Homo sapiens: one gene and its partners. The protein of the gene in region 2 purifies or fractionates together with the protein of the main gene of each other region. This does not show direct contact. Each region holds a gene or a part of one and is shown on either strand. Other genes may lie near its edges.

Region 1 (4,313 bases), on a different chromosome or scaffold from region 2:
ATGCAACAGATTTGACTATTTCCTATATTAAGATACTCTTAATGCCTATAACTCAATAAATATTAAAAATGAATGTTACATCTATAATAAATAAATGGGAAAATTAGCTTTACTATACAAAGAAAAAGGAATCTCAAAAATCAATCTAAACCATTAGTCTGAGCAACTAATAAGTCAGTAAAGACTATCAGTAAATCAATACCATTCAAGTAAAATTTTATAAACTAATAGTTCAGCATTCTGCAAAACAAAATTGACATCACTTTTTTGAAGCTAATCTGATCATCCTGATTAAATATGGCACGTTACTTCATTACCCTCTTCCTAACACACTACATTACTGAAAGAGACCATGTTTTAAAGAATATATTGCCAATTCTTAACTCTATAATAATGATAAAAAATAGTTACTTCAAAAATCACTTGTTTAAAAAGATACACATTTGAGACTCAAGGATCCCTGCATAGCCATAATAATGTCACAAACATTAAGATATAAAATATGAAACTGCATTTTTATTTAATAAGATCCAATAAACCTTAAGGTTTAATGCCAGCTTGAAAAATAATGCATTTAAGATATCACAAGAACAAAAACAAATTTCAATTAAAATTATACTAGATTTTTGTTTCTGAAGCTCACAAATAATAAATGTGTACATATCAGAATCTAAGCCTCTTTTTCTTTTTTTTTTATTGAGACAGAGTCTCTCTGCTGCTCAGGCTGGAGTGCAGTGGCTCAATCTCAGCTCACTGCAACCTCTGTCTCCTAGGTTCAAGCGATTCTCCTGCCTCAGCCTCCCGAGTAGCTGGCATTACAGGAATGCAATGCCACGCCCAGCTAATTTTTTGTATTTTTAGTAGCACACAGGGTTTCACCATGTTGGTCAGGCTGGTCTCGAACTCCTGACCTTAGGTGATCCGCCCGCTTCAGCCTCCCAAAGTGCTGGGATTACAGGACTGAGCCACCACGCTCAGCCTAAGCCTCTTTTTCACTACCCTCTAAGCGATCTACCACAGTGATGAGGGGCTAAAGAGCAGTGCAATTTGATTACAATAATGGAAATTAGATTTATTAATTAACAATTTTTCCTTAGCATGTTGGTTCCATAATTATTAAGAGTATGGACTTACTTAGAAATGAGCTTTCATTTTAAGAATTTCATCTTTGACCTTCTCTATTAGTCTGAGCAGTATGACACTATACGTATTTTATTTAACTAACCTACCTTGAGCTATTACTTTTTAAAAGGCTATATACATGAATGTGTATTGTCAACTGTAAAGCCCCACAGTATTTAATTATATCATGATGTCTTTGAGGTTGAACGCATATAGAAATGTCAACTAGTTTGGAGATACTGAGTTGGACTTTAGAAAAGAGGTAGGTCTTTGGACGAGCACGGTGGCTCACGCCTGTAATCCCAGTACTTTGGAGGGCCAAGGCAGGCAGGTCACGGGGTCAAGAGATCGAGACCATCCTGGCCAACATGGTGAAACCCCATCTCTACTAAAAATACAAAAATTAGCCAGGCATAGTGGCACGCGCCTGTAGTCCTAGCTACTCAGGGGGCTGAGGCAGGAGAATCACTTGAACCCAGGAGACGGAGGTTGCAGTGAGCAGAGATGGCGCCACTGCACTCCAGCCTGGCAACAGAGCAAGACTCTGTCTCAAAAAAAAAAAAAAAAAAAAAAAAGGAGGTAGGGCTTTAGGGCTTTAAGATAGATATTTGGCAATCATCCTAAACTTAGACGTTTATTAACTGCAATTATTAGAACAGATAAAATTTCTAAGGAGTGACCAATTGCCCCAATAACATGGAATACATTGCTTTCCATCTAGCATGCACTGAATATGTATTAAATGACTTAACATTTTAAAAACGGAAAATTAATCTCCTGTATTACTATGGTTATATGTGATTAAGATACTTCTGGTTTTGAAAATGAGTACATTAAATGTTTATTAGTTATTTTGTAGAACGTATGAACCCATGAAACTCTGCAGGACGCAGTCCCAACTGCCTAGTCCACTGCCTCTAGACATGTTTGGTTTTTACTTACCATAAGAGAACTGGTTATTACTAACCATTCAAACCGATGAAAATACCCAGAAGTCTCCTTCAGGGTATCTTCAAATGTGTCAACTTCTAATTCAATTGTCTTTTTCCTCCCACAACCAGCATTCATTTTCTTATACAACTGAATAATTTTCTACACCAATTCCTACAATTGAAACAGCACCGTCTTCTACCATTTCCCTTTGCAAGATATATACTAAATTTCAGCTAACATAAAAGTTACAGACTTTTATGAAATAGCCTTGATTCTTAACCACATTTATATCATCATTTATTTAGGTAAAACATTCCAAATTCCAAGTAATTACTTCAAAATGGAATTGTCACACAAAGCCCATTTGTTATTTGACTTGTTCAGTTTTTATGTTTTGTTTAACCTATTTCATAGAGTACTGCTCATGGGACCAGGAAGGTTATTAGTGAGCTAGGATTAAACTTCCATCCACAGATGAACAGCCAAGGTAATGTGGAAAAAATGCTAGATTTCAAATCATGACAGGGTCAAAGTAGATGGAGGTGGGAGAGATAGTACGGAAGTATGAAGTAGAACCAATGCAATAGCCAACTATGCAAAATCAGACACAGAGTGCTACATGACAGACAGAAAGAAAAATGGGTAGTAAAAAGATATTTATATTTTCAGGCATCAAGTTCAAAGGGAGCAAGAGTATGAGGATATGGGATTTGCAGAAACAACTTGTCAAGGGAAATGTTTTGGTCCCTCTCTGTCCCCTATCACTTGGAACTTGAAGAAAGTACATTAAATTGAAAAGCCTAGTTCTGTGCTAGTTCTGTGGCAAGTCTTGTGCTATTCACTATCCTCTCCTACTTCTTTTCAATTACTTATTGTTAGCTCTCAACTTATAGGATTTAGTCTGTTTTTCTCTACTTTTACCCTGTCCTGTATCATGACCCTTTAAGGCCATAATCCTTTATCTTACTGATTTTCTATTCTTTTGCACTAAAAATAGTCTTGCTTCCTATAAACCAAATGCAATATTGTACGCTTCTAAGATGGAGGGACCTCCTGTGAAGTTACAGTGAACTAACATTCAAGTTAGTTATGTTCAGGAACATAACCGAAGACAATAGCTTTCTTCCCAGCCTTCCTGCCTCCATCACTATTAAATTTTCCTCTGAAGCTTTCAAACCTGAACACATGATTTTTTTGAGACTTTTTTCTTAAATTATACTTTAAGTTCTGGGATACATGTGCAGAAAGTGCAGATTTGTTACATAGGTATACACACGCCATGGTGTTTTGCTGCACCCATCAACCCGTCATCTACATACCCGTCATCTACATACCCATCATCTACATAAGTATTTCTCCTAATGCTATCCCTTCCCTAACCCCCAACCCCGACAGGCCCTGGTGTGTGATGTTCCCCTCGCTGTGTCCATGTGAACACGATTTTTAAAAATTCATTGGTTTATTCTGAGTATTCATCATCATACAGTTGTGAAAATAGTTACTATACATAAAGGCTAAAAGAATCGATGGAAATTGACTGTAAATAACATGGATTTCTAAACAGGTTCATTAGAATTTTTCTTTTGATAGAATTCATAGTGTCCAGAGAATATTAGGTTGTAGTATGTGCTCAAGCACAAAAGTATTCTTCAGGTATAGATTAAAAACATAATTAAAGCATTTTCATGTGAGCACTTTAAATATGTTTTTAATTTGTACTTAAGGAATATTTTAAATGAATTACAAACATCTGGCTACTATCTCTTTACAAAACAAATGTTCTGCATCTCAGAGAATTACAAAAACTGGGTTTATGGGCCCAGATACTGTTTTCAATGCAAAGATGGGTAAAATTAGTACTTACCTTTGATACTAAATCAATATTAAATCTCCTGCCTTCTTTAATAATTTGTGAGTAAGTAATTCTGTTTTTCTTTGGTTGCTCTGTGGTATCTTCTGCTATAGGCACATTTTCACTCATGTCTTCTGCTGAAGTTGATGGCACACAAGTTTTATCATCACAATGGTTTTCTTTTTCCCCTGTCACTTCAGCACCATTTACTTCTAGCGCATTCTCTGGATCGCTGCTTGGAGTTTGTTCTGTGAGCATTTCACAGCTCATAGTGCTTAATGACTCATCCTCCGTAGGCAGGAAGGCAGAATCTGCAGCTTCTGTGGAGTTTGCAGATGTCACAAGAGCATGATTTTTCTGCAGTGCACCAGCTTCTTCGACATCTTCATGCAAATCCTGACTAATA
Region 2 (5,978 bases):
ATTTTATAATTTTTATTTATGTTGCCCAGGATGGAGTGCAGTGGCGTGATCTCAGCTCACTGTAACCTCCACCTCATGGGTTCAGGTGATTCTCTTGCCTCAGCCTTCTTAGTAGCTGGGATTACAGGTGCCCGCCACCACACCTGGCTAATTTTCTTGTATTTTTAGTGGAGACCGGGTTTCACCATGTTGGCCAGGCTGGCCTTGAACTCCTGGCCTCAGTCGGGTGTGGTGGCTCACACCTGTAATCCCAGCACTTTGGGAGGCTGAGACAGGCAGATCACAAGGTCAGGAGATCGAGACCATCCTGGCTAACATAGTGAAACCCCGTCTCTACTAAAAATACAAAAAAAATTAGCTGGGCGTGGTGGCGGGCACCTGTAGTCTCAGCTATTTGGGAGGCTGAGGCAGGAGAATGGCATGAGCCTGGCAGGCAGAGCTTGCAGTGAGCTAAGATCGTGCCACTGCACTCCAGCCTGGGTGACAGAGCAAGACTCTGTCTCAAAAAAAAAAAAAAAAAAAAAAGAACTCCTGGCCTCAGGTGATCTGCCTGTCTTGGCCTCCCAAAGTGTTGGGATTACAGGTATGAGCCACTGTGCCTGGCCCTCTAGATATAATTAAATGTCTAAAACTTAAGGACAAAACCATCATTCACCCAAACATATGACGTATCAAGTGAGCTGAGATGACAGTCCTATTACTGCTCACTTACCTCTATATATGGCAACTAGTAGAACTGGGTATTTATATCAGAAGCCTTAGAATTATCCTTGTAGAATATTGAATTTTACAAAATTATCTGCAATCCACTTATGCCTCCTTTTATTTCTCCTTCCAGGAACCTTGACACTCTCCTTGGTCGTCTCAGGAAATCTTACTTTTTTTTTTGTTTTGTTTCTTTTTTGAGATGGAGTCTCGCTCTGTCGCCCAGTGGCTGTGATCTCAGCTCACTGCAACCTCTGCCTCCTGGGTTCAAGCAATTCTCCTGCCTCAGCCTCCCAAGTAGCTAGGATTACTGTATGCACCACCACACCCGACTGATTTTTGTAGTTTTAGTAGAGACGGGGGTTTCACCATGTTGGCCAGGCTAGTCTCGAACTACTGACCTCAGGTGATCCGCCTGCCTCGGCCTCCCAAAGTGCTGGGATTACGGGTGTGAGCCACTGCACTTGGCCAGGAAATCTTTTCAACATAAATTATTTCTCAAGGAAAATTTACTTTGAGGTTTAAGACACATATATAGTTCTGCCATATTTATTAAATGGCTCTTGAAGTATTTGATCTGTGGTTGAAGGCAGAAGATATCCACAATGGTTTGAGGAGCTCTGTCTTCAGAAATCTTTTTGTAAATCTAAAATAGAATAGATAATATATGGAAGAACAGCAAAGGAAACAAAACAAAGCCCATTTACTTTTACATTCTTTTTTGCCTAATGCTTCTATTTAACACACATCATGCACAAAGATTTGCTTACACATTTGCTGAAGTCCACATCATAGGCTGAGCTAGTATGGAACAGTGAGGATACAAAGGACTTAATACGGCCAGTTGCAATGGCAGCTTCAACCAGGCTTTCCAAGCTCAGAGTTGTTGTTCATCCAATAATCACACATATGAGTGTCTACTGAGTAGAGCATTATCTTAGGCACTACTGCTTAAACTATCACATATTTAAATAAAAAATGAAGTGGCAAGATAATTTGTATTGCTATAACATTGTCACAGTTTTCTAGAGTAGCCTTCATCTCTTGAATAATATTCAATCTGCTGATTTTTTTCATATTGGCTTATACATATGCTCATATGTCTCCCATTTAGAGTACCCTTCATTTGACACTGCTATCCTCTTTGTGTTTCTTTCCAGTTATTATATGCAGCAGGATTTTATTAGTTTCCTACTGTACCTGACACTTGATAATCTTGCACTTTTCTTTCCCCTGGCTTCTATAACATTTTCCCTTCCATCTTTCATCTCTTCACTTCTAAATCATTAGCAAGTCTCAAGGATGGTTCCAGTATTTGCACCTTTCGGAGATCTCCAGTGCTACTGTTCTAGTGGCAATAGCGCAGTTGGCCTCTTGGGCTCTATTCTAGTCCCTGTCTTGCCCAGATTTATCTTTCTAGATAAAAACTACAAATCATGGCATTCCCTTCCTCAGAACTTTTAAAAGCTTCCTATTAAGCCCAAAACCAAGCCCAAACACATAAGCTTGGAATTCAAGGCCATTCAGTTTGCTTCTTTGGATTTATAGCCCATCACTTCTGGACACACCATATACTAGATTAGCTGTACTACTTGATGGCTTCCAGAGTAACTGGATGCTTTCCTGTCTGTCTTTGCTCTTGATGTTCCTTCAAGAATGAACAACCCTTGGCCTTTTTCCACCTCCATACCCTTTATCTTATCATATTTCTGCTTGTGGAAATCCTTCTCATACCTTATGGTATAGTATATTGGCATTAGGGATTAGAAATTTTTTTTTTTTTTGAGATAGTGTCTTGCTCTGTTGCCCAGGCTGGAGTGCAATGGTGCGATCTTGGCTCACTGCAACCTCCACCTCCCAGCTTCAAGTGATTCTCCTGCCTCAGCCTCCCAAGTAGCTGGGATTACAGGCGCACAATACCACGCCCGGCTAATTTTTGTATTTTTAGTAGAGACGGGGTTTCACCGTGTTGGCCAGGCTGGTCTTGAACTCCTGACCTCAGGTGATCCACCTGCTTTGGCCTCCCAAAGTGCTAGGATTACAGGTGTGAGCCACCGTGTCCGGCCTAGGGTTTTTTTTTTTTTTTGAGACGGAGTTTTGCTCTTGTTGCCCAGGCTGGAGTGCGATGGCACAATTTCAGCTCACTGCAACCTCTGCCTCCTGGGTTCAAGTGATTCTCCTGCCTCAGCCTCCCTAGTAGCTGGGATTACAGGCTCCCACCACCACACCCAGCTAATTTTTTGTATTTTTAGTAGAGATGGGGTTTTACTATGTTGGCTAGGCTTGTTTTGAACTCCTGACCTCAGGCGATCCACCTGCCTCAGCATCCCAAAGTGCTGGGATTACAGGTGTGAGCCACTGCACCCGGCTAGGGATTAGAATTCTTACAGCAGCTACACTGAAAGGAGTTCAGATACCACCATTTTCATATGAAATCTCAGAGTCCATCAGATAAAATCTCTTTCTTAGCATTTTGTACTTTTTTTTTTGTATTAAGTTAGTACTTCTTTTTTTTTTTTGAGATGGAGTCTTGCTCTGTTGCCCAGGCTGGAGTGCGATGGTGTGATCTCAGCTCACTGCAACCTCTGCCTCCCCGGTTCAAGCGATTCTCATGTCTCGGCCTCCTGAGTAGCTGGGATTACAGGTGCCTGCCACCACGCCCAGCTAATTTTTTGTATTTTTAGTAGAAACAGGGTTTCACCATGTTGGCCAGGCTGGTCTCGAACTCCTGACCTCAAGTGATCCAACTGCCTTGGTCTCCCAAAGTGCTGGGATTACAGGCGTGAGCCACCGTGCCTGGCCAAGTTAGTACTTCTTAAGGGCAAGGAGGCATGATGTTAATTCATCTTTGTCTCCCTTATAGACCTGATACTTAGAATGTGTTTAATAACTATGTGTTAAATTGAATTAAGGAACCTCAATTTCCAAAACATTAAGGATAGTAAGATAAATCTGTAAATTTTGGGAGGAGGGCAAAGAAAGACTAGAACTCAAAAATTGCTCATTTCTACTAATAATAAGATCTAACTAGATAGAAGGGAAAGGCATAGCGTCTTACCACTCTTCTTAAGAAGTTCTCCTTTTCGGGATTTATCCAGATTTTCAAGAAAATGTTCAAAAACTTTCACATAAGGTGCTAGACTGGTCTTCTTATAATCTAAATTATGAAGAATGTACATTATAATTAGCATACTGGCAGCAAGAATAACATGAAAACACAACTAAGTTTCTTATAAGAATTCTCTAGGGCTGCCCAATTGAAATATGAGAGAAACATACATACTTTTAAATACTATATTAGTCACATTAAAAAAGGTGAAATTATTACTGAGACAGGATTTCACTCTGTCATGCAGACTGAAGTACAGTGGTTCCGTCTTGGCTCACTGCAGCCTCGATCTACTGGGCTCAAGGGATCTTCCCATCTCTGCTTCCTGAGTAGCTATAACTACAGGCATGTACCACCATGCCCAACCAATTTTTTTTTTTTTTTTGGTATTTGTAGAGACGAGGTCTCACTCTGTTGCTCAGGCTAGTCTTGAACTCCTGAGCTCGAGTGATCTCCCAGCCTCGGCCTCTGAAAGTGCTGGGATTACAGACACATGCCACCATGCCCAGCTAAAATATTATTTTTGCATGTAATAAAAATTGAGATATATGATACTCTCTTTCATACAAGTCTTTTATATTTATATATATATATATAATATATATACATATATTTTCTTTTTTTTTTTTTTTGAGACAGAGTGTCACTCTGTTGCCCAGGCTGGAGTGCAATGGTGCGATCTCGGCTTACTGCAACTTCCGCCTCCCAGGTTCAAGCAATTCTCCTACCTCAGCCTCCCGACTAGCTGGGATTATAGGTGCCCGCCACCACAATGAGCTAATTTTTTGTATTTTTAGTAGAGATAGGGTTTCACCATGTTGGCCAGGCTGGTCTCAAACTCCTGACCTCATGATTCACCCACTTTGGCCTCCCAAAGTGCTGGGATTACAGGCGTGAGCCACCGCGCCCGGTCCATGCCTTTATTTTTGAGTCTTGCTCTGTTGCCAGGCTGGTATGCAGTGGTGCAATCTTGGCTCGGGAACCTCCGCCTCCCGAGTTCAAGCGATTCTCCTGCCTCAGCCTCCTGAGTAGCTGGGACTATAGGTGTGTGCCACCATGCCCGGCTAAGTTTTTGTATTTTTAGTAGAGACGGGGTTTCACCATGCTGTCCAAGATGGTTTTGATCTCTTGACCTCGTGATCCACCTGCCTCAGTCTCCCAAAGTGCTGGGATTACAGGCGTGAGCCACCGTGCCCGGCCCCATGTCTTATTTTTGAGACACTGTCTTGCTTTTTTGCCCAGGCTAGAATGCAGTGGTGCAATTGCAGCTCACTGCAGCTTTGACTTCCCTGGCTTAAATGATCCTCCCACCTCAGCCTCCCAAGTAGCTGGGATCACAGGGAGTGCCACCACAGCTGGCTAATTTTTTATTTTTAGTAGAGACAAGGTCTTGTGTTGCTCAGGCTCTGGTCACGCCCTTTTGGAGATTATTAGAAGTTTTTACATTGAGTATTCTTGTTTTTTTTTTTTTGAGATGGAGTCTTGCTCTGTCTCCCAGGCTGGAGTGCAGTGGGGCAATCTCGGCTTATTGCAACCTCCACCTCCTGGGTTCAAGCGATTCTTCTGCCTCAGCCTCCCGAGTAGCTAGGATTATAGGCGCCCGCCACGACGCCCAGATAATTTTTGTATTTTTAGTAAAGATGGGGTTTCGCCATGTTGGCCAGGCTGGTCTTGAACTCCTGACCTCAGGTGATCCACCCGCCTCAGGCTCCCAAAGTGCTGGGCCTACAGGCATCAGCCACTACGCCTGGCCTGCATTAAGTATTCTTTGATTTATAAAATAGTTTAAAAAATGTATACAACAAAAAATTTAATATAGGCAGGGTGCGGTGGCTCATGCCTATAATCCCAGCACTTTGGGAGGCCGAGGCAGGTGGATTACGTGAGGTCGTGAGTTCGAGACCAGCCTGACCAACATGGAGAAACCCTGTCTCTAGTAAAAATACAAAAATTAGCTGGACGTCGTGGCGGGCACCTGTAACTCCAGCTACTCAGGAGGCTGAGGCAGGAGAATTGCTTGAACCCAGGAGGCGGAGGTTGCAATGAGCTGAGATTGCACCATTGCACACCAGCCTGGGTGACAGAGTAAGACTCTTTCTCTAAAAAAAAAAAAAAAAAAAAAAAAAAAAAGAATATACAATTTTATTCATCCATTTAATTATAT
Region 3 (4,313 bases), on a different chromosome or scaffold from region 2:
GTGTATCTTTTTTTTTTTTTTTTTTTGGAGACAGGGTCTCCCTCTGTCACCCAGGCTGCAGTGCAGTGGTGCGATCATAGCTCACTGCAGCCTCAACTCCCGGGCTCAAGCCATCCTCCCACCTCAGCCTCCCAAGTAGCTGGGGCACCTATAGGTGCTCACCACCACAACTGACAAAAGTTTTGTGGGATTTTTTTTTTTTTTTTTTTGTAGAGACAGGGTCTCATTATGTTGCCCAGGCTGGTCTCAAATTCCTGGGTTCAAGTGATCCTCCTGTCTCAGCCTCCCAAAGTGCTGGGATTACAGGTGTGAGCCACTGCACCCAGCCTTTTTTTTGAGACTGGGTCTTTCTCTGCTGCCCAGGCTAGGGTGCAATGACACAATCATAGCTCACTGTAACCTCCAACTCCGGGGCTCAAGCAAGCCTCCCACCTTGTTCTCCCAAAGTGCTGAGTTTACAGGCGTGAGCCATCATGCCTAGCCTGTTCTTTTTAAAAAAATCCACACTGCTCTCCACTGTGACGCCGCCCTGCCCATGCCCCTGACTACACTTCTCCCCTCTCCTCCCGCTCCCCTTCCCCAGGTGGACCTCCTGCGCTCTGCTCACCTGCACCCGCTACTCCTTCTGGCGGGAACTCTTCCTCCCTTTTCACCTGGCTGCTGCCTCCTTTCCTTCAGATGCTCCCAGCCTCCAGGTGCTTCCTCTGGGCTCACACAGCCCCCTGTGTTCCCTCACTCCTGCCTTGGTCACGCCGCCCGTTTCCCCACCGCGACTGACACTGCCCCACGCTTCGAAGCGCACAGGCCGCGTGCCTCTGGCTTCTGCTTCCTCCCTCGCTGGACAGATCACTCCGCCTGCGCCTCCCACTTCCCTCCACAAACACTCTGGGCCGTCAGTGTCGGCAGATGGTTCCGTCACCTCCAGGGACTGAGATCGTTTCGAGTCCCCCCCAACCCCGCGCCCCTAGGCAGAGCGTGGTCTCCGAGGCTCCACTGTGCCCCCAACATTTCCTCCCGGCCTTGGAGCCCTGGAGCCCGGGACCGGGCCCGCGAGCCACGCACCTACATACATGACGGTGCCCCGGCGAGGGGATTGTCCCGCCGCCCGCACCTCACAGCGGCTGCCCACGGGGATGGAGCTGGCCTGGGCCTTCTCCTCGGCCAGGCGCTGGGCGGCCTCGGCCTCCTGCTGAGCCCGCTCCTCCTCGTTGTACCGGCCGAGCTTGCTGCGCTTCAGGAAAGAGCGGACCGTGTCTGTGGGCAGAGGGGGCTGGGGTCAGTTGGGGTGTCGGCCGGGCCTAACAGGATGACGCTCCACCCACGAGGGGCCCACGTTCACGGAGGAACTCTCTCTTCCAGGTGACAAAGGGCTGTCACCCAAGCCCCAGGTCTCCCACCACAGCCTTAGCCTCTCCCAGGACTCCTAGGCCCCCCAACTCCACAATCGTAAATGGAAGGGGTGCCGCCTGCACCCCTCACTACAGGACCCATGGTCTCTCACCCCTTCAGCGCACATCTGCCTTCATCATCCGCCTTCCTCCTCCGCCCTCCTCCGGCCCTGAGGCCCCCGGTCTCCCCCAACACTCGATCCGTCCCAGGCGCCCTCACTGACCGCCACCCTGTCCACTCGCATTCCACCTGTCCTGCCCTCCACACCCCGTCCGACCGCCCCATGCCCCCATCTGACCCTGACAACACCCAGCCCCCACACCTACCCCTCAACTCCCTCCACTTTCCCAGCCCTCCCCCGACCACGTCTGACTGCCCATACCCCTGACACCTCCCGGCCCTCATTCCCACCCCAGGCCTCCGTCTGTCCCCACTCCCAGCCTCACCCCTATATCCTCCCAAGCTCTCGGCCCCCCGTCTACACCACTGGCCTCCCTGCAGGGGCCCTGTCTAACCTGCCCGCCCTCATACCTGCACATACTCCCTCTGGCCCCCACGCACCCCTCGACGCCCACCTGCCCGTACCTTGCCTCTGGTCGTAGGCTTCTTGTGAGATCGTGTACTTCTCCACCCGGGACACGTCCTCATACTCACCAAGGCGGGCGCCACTGTGGTCAATGACCTGTGTGAGGGGAGGGGCTCCGTGGGGATCAGGGTCTGGCCAGGGAGGCCTGGGTGCTGGGTGCAGGGACTTCAGTGTCTCCATCTGGGAAAAACGCATCTCCCTCCCTCGCCTGTACTGCAGCCTTCTCTTCTCTCCTGAGCCCAGCGGAAGGGAGAAGTAGCTACGTACACTGGCCACCTCCCCTTCCTCACCCCCATCCAAGCTCCCAGAGGCTGCCTCTGTCCCCAGAAGTTCCCCGCTTGCTGGCATCAACATCGCCAAGGGCCCCAAAGTCACAGAGTCCAACCGGCAGAGCTCAGGCCTTGCCCACAGCCCTGTGCACAGCGCATCTCCTCGATGGGCCTCTGGGACTCTCCTAAGCTGGCCCCAACCTCAGGCCCCAGAGCATCTCTTCCTGTTCTGCCCCCACTATTCATTCATTCATTGGTTTCCGAGCTCCCAGGGGCCCAGCTGGGCCTCATGCTGGGGACTCAGTGTAAACACAGACGCACTCTGCCCTCAGGCTGTGCTCATTGTGCAGGGAGAAGGCCAACCACAAACAAAGGAACAGGTACCTATGAAACACTGGAGGATGGCTATGGAGAAAAATATGACAGGGAAGAGGCTTAAGGAGCATGGGAGGGTAGGCTTCCCAAAAGAGGGGATGTTTCAGCCAAGGCTGGAAAGATGAGCAAGAACGGCAGGTGCAGACGGCCAGAGGTAGAAATGTCCTTCACGCTCTAGAGTGGGTGGTGCGGGTGGGGTGGAGCGAGCCAGAGGGAGAGTGGAAGACACAAGGGACTGCTGGAGACTTTGGGTTTTTTTTTTTTTTTTGACGGAGTCTCGCTCTGTCACCCAGGCTGGAGTGTGGTGGTGTGATCTCAGCTCACGGAAACCTCTGCCTCACTGCAAATTCAAGTGATTCTCCTGCCTCAGCCTCCCGGGCAGCTGAAACTATAGGCACACACCACCACACCCGGCTAATTTTTGTATTTTTAAGTAGAGACGACATTTTGCCATGCTGGTCAGGCTGGTCTAGAACTCCTGACCTCAAGTGATCTTCCCACCTCAGCCTCCCAATGTACTGGGTGGGATTACAGGCACGATCCACCGCACCTGGCCTAGACTTTGGTTTTTATCTGGAGCGAAGTGCCACCAGGGCAGGGCTCTGAGCTAGGAGGGCCCTGGCCTGACTCAGGTGGTCCCAGGCTCCCTCTGGCTGAGATGGGGAGCGGGGAGGCCAGGGAGGAAGCTGCCGGGATGGCGAGGTTGGGGGAAGGATGGAGGCTGGACCAGGGTCAGGGAAGTTTTTGTAGGTGGAGCCGAGAGGATTTGATGAGAGTGGATGTGGGGGTGAGGGAGAGAGCGGGCCCAAGGAACACCCTGAGGTGTCTGGCCTAAGCCACTGGGCTAACATGGCAAAATAGGAATGGCCTTTACCTCCGGATGAAGCGTCACTGAGAATTTCTGTTGAGAATTTTCACAAATTTGAAGTTCTGTTATTTTAAACAATGAATATGGGTGATATTTATAAAGAGAAAAAGAATTTTAGAAAATGTAAAAATTCCCCAGTGGCTCCACTCTGGAACACCTTCCTTGAGTGGCCTGGGAGGTCTGTGTGTACCTGAACCGCCTGTTATGAAACCTGCTCAAAGATGCCACTGCCTATGAGGTGCCTATGAACACCCGCACCCCTTAGCTTCAGCTGCCCAGGGTGGCCCAAAGGCTCAGTCCTGTGCACCCAGCAGAGGCCTGACCCACAGCTCCAGACCTCGTCCCCTCATCAGGACTCTCACAGCAGCCCCTTCCTGGTCTCCCTACTCTTCCTGTCCTCCACCACCTGTTCCCCACACACAGCCAGAGGGGGCCTGTGAACACCTGAGCCAGGTCAGGGTCCTCCCCAGCTTCCACAGTGTTTGGCCACAGAAGTGGCCTGTCTTAATCCCCACCGCGCTCCCTCCCACCTTGGAGTGTTTGCTGGGTTGTGCCCCACTCCTAGGGCACCCCTTCCCCATCTTCAGTTAACCTTTTTTTTTTTTTTTTTTTTAAAGATAGGATCTCACTCTATCATCCAAACTGGAGTGCAGTGGTGTGATCTCAGCTCACTGCAACTTCCAGCTCCTGGGTTCAAGTGATCCTCCTGCCTCAGCCTCCTGAGTAGCTAGGATTACAGGCATCTGCCACCACGCCCAGCTAATTTCTGTATTTTTAGGAGAGACGGGGTTTCACCGTCTCGAACTCCTGACCTTAAGTGATCTGT
Region 4 (3,933 bases), on a different chromosome or scaffold from region 2:
CCCTCTTCTAAAAAACAAAACATTCAACTTTCAAATTCAACATCATCTAAAAATCTTTCTCCAACACAATGGTAAATGATCTGAAGTGCTTTGCTTATCTCCGCTCATGCCTCACTCACTCTCCTGCCAATCTTGTTCACCTTTTCAAATCTTCCTCCTCAAGGAGAAACCCCCCAAAATGCCTCCTCCTCGGGACAAGCCTTCCTCCTCTGAATTTCAACCTGGCCAACAAACCCCTTCGTCTGGCTCCTGCCCTCTCCCATTCCCTCCACCTTCTCCTTCGGATCCGGCTCCTCCACCCCCTTACTGTCACCCTCCATCCCCCTTCCTTCTCCACCTCAAACCAGGTCTCACGCCCAACGCTCTTTTGCCGAAAACCAGACACATGCCCAAAGGCCTTCCAAAGTCTTTCCCTTGCAGGAGGTTGCAAGGACTGAAGGCATAATCTGAATTCAAGTTCCCTAGCTGACTTCTCCCATACTGAAAAGAGACTTTGCTCCTTTTCAATGGATCCTACCTCCTTCCTCAAGGAATGTCTGTACTTCCCTAAATCTTATGACCTTACCTGGCATGACATATATGTCATCCTCTCCTCTACCCTCACCCTGGAGGACAGGGAACACATATTTACGGGTGCCCAGGTCCATGAGAACACCCTCCACCAACAAGATGCTGCTCATAACCCAGTAGGGACCCTAGCTGTCCCCAGAACTGACCTCAATCGGAATTATCAGGCAACTTCTGTAGACAGGCAGAAACCAGGCCATATGATATCATGCCTTCTAGCTGGCATAAATAAAGTCGCCCCTGCTCTTTTCCTCTCCCGCCTTTTCAAAGGTCACAACTAAATATGCCACCTTAAGCCCTAATACCATTAAGGGCAAAATCTACCTCCATTTACACTTTATCTCCCAGTCAGCCCCAGACATTTGAAAAAAAACTTTAAAAAGTGGAGGATGGCCCTCAAACCTCCAAAGAGACTTAATCAAAGTGGCCTTTAAGGTCTATAAGATTAGAGAGGAAGAACTAAAAAACCCAAACCTAAAAAAGGGCCAGGCTAAATATCAAATGCTGATAGCTGCCACTCAACAGGGTTCCCAAGGCATACAGAATTCCTCAACTTGGCAACAGTCAACTCCAGGAGCCTGTTATAAGTGCATCCAACAGGGACACTGAGCAAAAGCCTGGCCTAATCCCGTGACACTCTGGAAGCCTTGCCCCATCTGTGATATCAAGCAACACTGGAAGTCAGACTGTGCTCAGTGAAACTCTTCATCTAGCTTCACCACCTGTACCTGAAGACAGGTGGGGCCTAGAGTCCACCACCCCTACTGCCATCACCACCTCGGAACCCAGGGTAATTCTGTCAGTCTCTAGTAAGTCCATGTCTTTCCTATTGGATACTCAATACGACAACTAGTTACTCGGTTTTACCAGAATATTCTAGACCCTTTTTCTGTTCTTCGATCTCTATTGTGAGAATCAATAAAATCCCCTCTAGGCACAGACTCGTCCTTTATTATGCAACCTATTCAACAGCCCCCTTCACCCACTGTTTCCTGGTTATCCCTCAGTCCCCTACCCCTATCTTGGGGTGGGACATATTAAGTAAATTCCAGGCCTCCATGCAATGCGGCTCCTACAATTCTACCCCTTTTATTTTACTCCGACACCCAAACGCTTCCCTCTCCCCCTACTCATCCTCATTATCCACCCTGTTACCTTCTGTTAATTCTAAAGCTTGGAATGTTTCTAAACCCACAATAGCCACACATCACATCCCAGTTAAAATAACCTTTCAAAACTCCTCCATTTTCTTTTTTCAGTCTCAATATCCCCTTAATCCAGCCGTGCTTAGGGGCCTCAAACCTATTATTTGTAAACTTTAACAAGCTCATATTCTCAAGCCTGTTAACTCTCCCCAGAACACCCCTATTCTGGCTTTCCAAAAGACAGACGGGACTTACCCCTTTGTCCAGGATCTCCAAGTTGTTGACCAGGCAGTGGTACCAATACATCTAGTGGTCCTCAACCAATATGCTCTACTCTCCCATATTCCTAAATCTACTACACACTCCTCTGTATTGGAACTGAAAGATGCCTATTTCACCATTCCCTTAAATCCGGCTTACAGAAGTCTTTTTGCTTTAACTTGGTCAAGTCCTAATACTCACATGTGCACCCAACTAGAGTGGACTGTACTCTTACAGGGGTTCCAGGATAGCCCCCACCTATTCAGACTTGCCCTCATCAAGGACCTAGGTGAACTTTCCCTTGCTGCTAGCACCCTCCTGCAACATGTCAAACTCCTTCTCTGTAGCCCCTTCCTTAACCTGTCCATCCAACACACCACTTAGGTTTTAAACTTCCTCCATAATAGAGGAAATCTCAGGTAGCCCAAACCAAAGTTTGGGCCTAGCCCACAATATTTCAGGTAGCCCAAACCAAAGTTACTTACCTTGGGTTTGTCCTAACCCCTAATTCTCGAGCCATCCCAACCCAATGAAAGGAGCTAATTTGGGACATGCCCTTTCCTCACACAAAAAAGTACCTTCTCTCCTTCTCGGGCCTTGTGGGTTACTTCTGGCTGTCAGTTCCCAATTTTGACTTGCTGGCCAAGCCACTAAACAGGGCCTCACATGGGCCCATCCTAAAACCCCTAAACCCAGCTTGCCCCATCAACTCCCACTTAAAAACTTAAAAATGCCCTTTTAATGGCCCTGGCACAGGGACTGCCCAACCTCACCAAGCCCGTTACTTTGTATGTACATTCTGACCAGGGCCTTGCCCTTGGACTACTCTGCCAAACATACGGCAACGCCACACAAGCCACTGCACTTCTCTCAAAACAACTGGACTCTGTTGTTTTGTGTGACCAAGGCTGGTCACTCTGACTAAAAATCTTGGCTGTGGCCACATCGCTGGCCTTAGAGGCACGGAAACTCCCTCTTTACCAACACATTACTATTGCATCTTCCCATTACCTACAGGACCTCATAAACCATCAATCCCTTCTATCCCTCCTACCATCCTGCTTATAACAGGTACATGCCTTATTCCTAGGTAGCCCTCTAATCCCCTTCCAGAGATATAAAACTCTCAACCCAGCCACCCTCCTCCCTGTAAACACTTCCGATTCTAGGCTCTCTCACTCCTGTCTGGACCTCTTAGACTCCCTCTCCTCCTCCTTCCAACACATTTCACATGCCCCTTTGCAGGGAACACATACACGGTTAGTTAATGGAAGCTCTTTTAGGGAGCCATGTCCAGCAGCTGGCTATTCCATCATTGCTGAAAATAAACTCCTAGAATCCAATGCTCTGCCACCCCATGCTACCTCTCAACAGCCTAAGCTAGTTGCCCTAACCAGGGCCCTCACCCTAGCAAAGGGAAAGAGGGTCAACATTTACACCCATTCCAAATATGCATACCATGTCCTACAGTCTCATGCCTTCATCTGGCAGGAACAGGGTTTCCTAACTACAAAAGGAACTCCCATAAGAAATGGCAAACTTATACATAAGCTGCTGGGGGTGGATAAACTACCACCAAAGGCCACCATTATCCATTGCAAGGGGTGCCGAAAGTCTAAAGATGCCATAACCGAGAGAAACCTTTCAACAAATTTGGCAGCCTGGCAGGCAGCCCTTAAAACCCCATCGTTATTGCTCATTTTTTCCTGTATATACCCAGAAGGAATGAACCCCACTTGCCCGGGCTGGTGCCATTCAGGAAAAAATTGTTTGATCTCAGTGATAAAGTGTCTTGTCCAAGTTTAAAAAACCTTCTGTACTTTCATATGTGCACAACCATTTCCATGCTGCTTACTGCCCCTACTCCAGCTTTTAGAAAATTATATACATTCTTCTGCCATGGCTGCCAATCTGAAATATATTACTAAGGCATGTTCCCTTTGCACTCAAACTTCCCCTC

Evidence for each region.
Region 1: the proteins of PRIM1 (region 2) and CHM purify together in Homo sapiens (co-immunoprecipitation; one large-scale study listed by IntAct). This does not show direct contact.
Region 3: the proteins of PRIM1 (region 2) and TBCB fractionate together in Homo sapiens (co-fractionation; one large-scale study listed by BioGRID). This does not show direct contact.
Region 4: the proteins of PRIM1 (region 2) and SPANXN3 purify together in Homo sapiens (co-immunoprecipitation; one large-scale study listed by IntAct). This does not show direct contact.

What each region holds. Positions count from the first base shown.
Region 1 is NC_000023.11:85,959,746-85,964,058, forward strand, and holds part of CHM (rab proteins geranylgeranyltransferase component A 1), read right to left. Parts: intron 4,308-4,313; coding exon 3,920-4,307; intron 1-3,919. UniProt on the Homo sapiens protein: Substrate-binding subunit of the Rab geranylgeranyltransferase (GGTase) complex.
Region 2 is NC_000012.12:56,730,384-56,736,361, forward strand, and holds the end of PRIM1 (DNA primase small subunit), read right to left. Parts: intron 3,863-5,978; coding exon 3,764-3,862; intron 1,352-3,763; coding exon 1,332-1,351; 3' UTR 1,197-1,331; downstream 1-1,196. UniProt on the Homo sapiens protein: Catalytic subunit of the DNA primase complex and component of the DNA polymerase alpha complex (also known as the alpha DNA polymerase-primase complex - primosome/replisome) which play an essential role in the initiation of DNA synthesis.
Region 3 is NC_000019.10:36,118,468-36,122,780, reverse strand, and holds part of TBCB (tubulin-folding cofactor B), read right to left. Parts: intron 2,072-4,313; coding exon 1,975-2,071; intron 1,255-1,974; coding exon 1,063-1,254; exon of another isoform or gene 608-1,062; intron 1-607.
Region 4 is NC_000023.11:143,510,543-143,514,475, forward strand, and holds part of SPANXN3 (sperm protein associated with the nucleus on the X chromosome N3), read right to left. Parts: intron 1-3,933.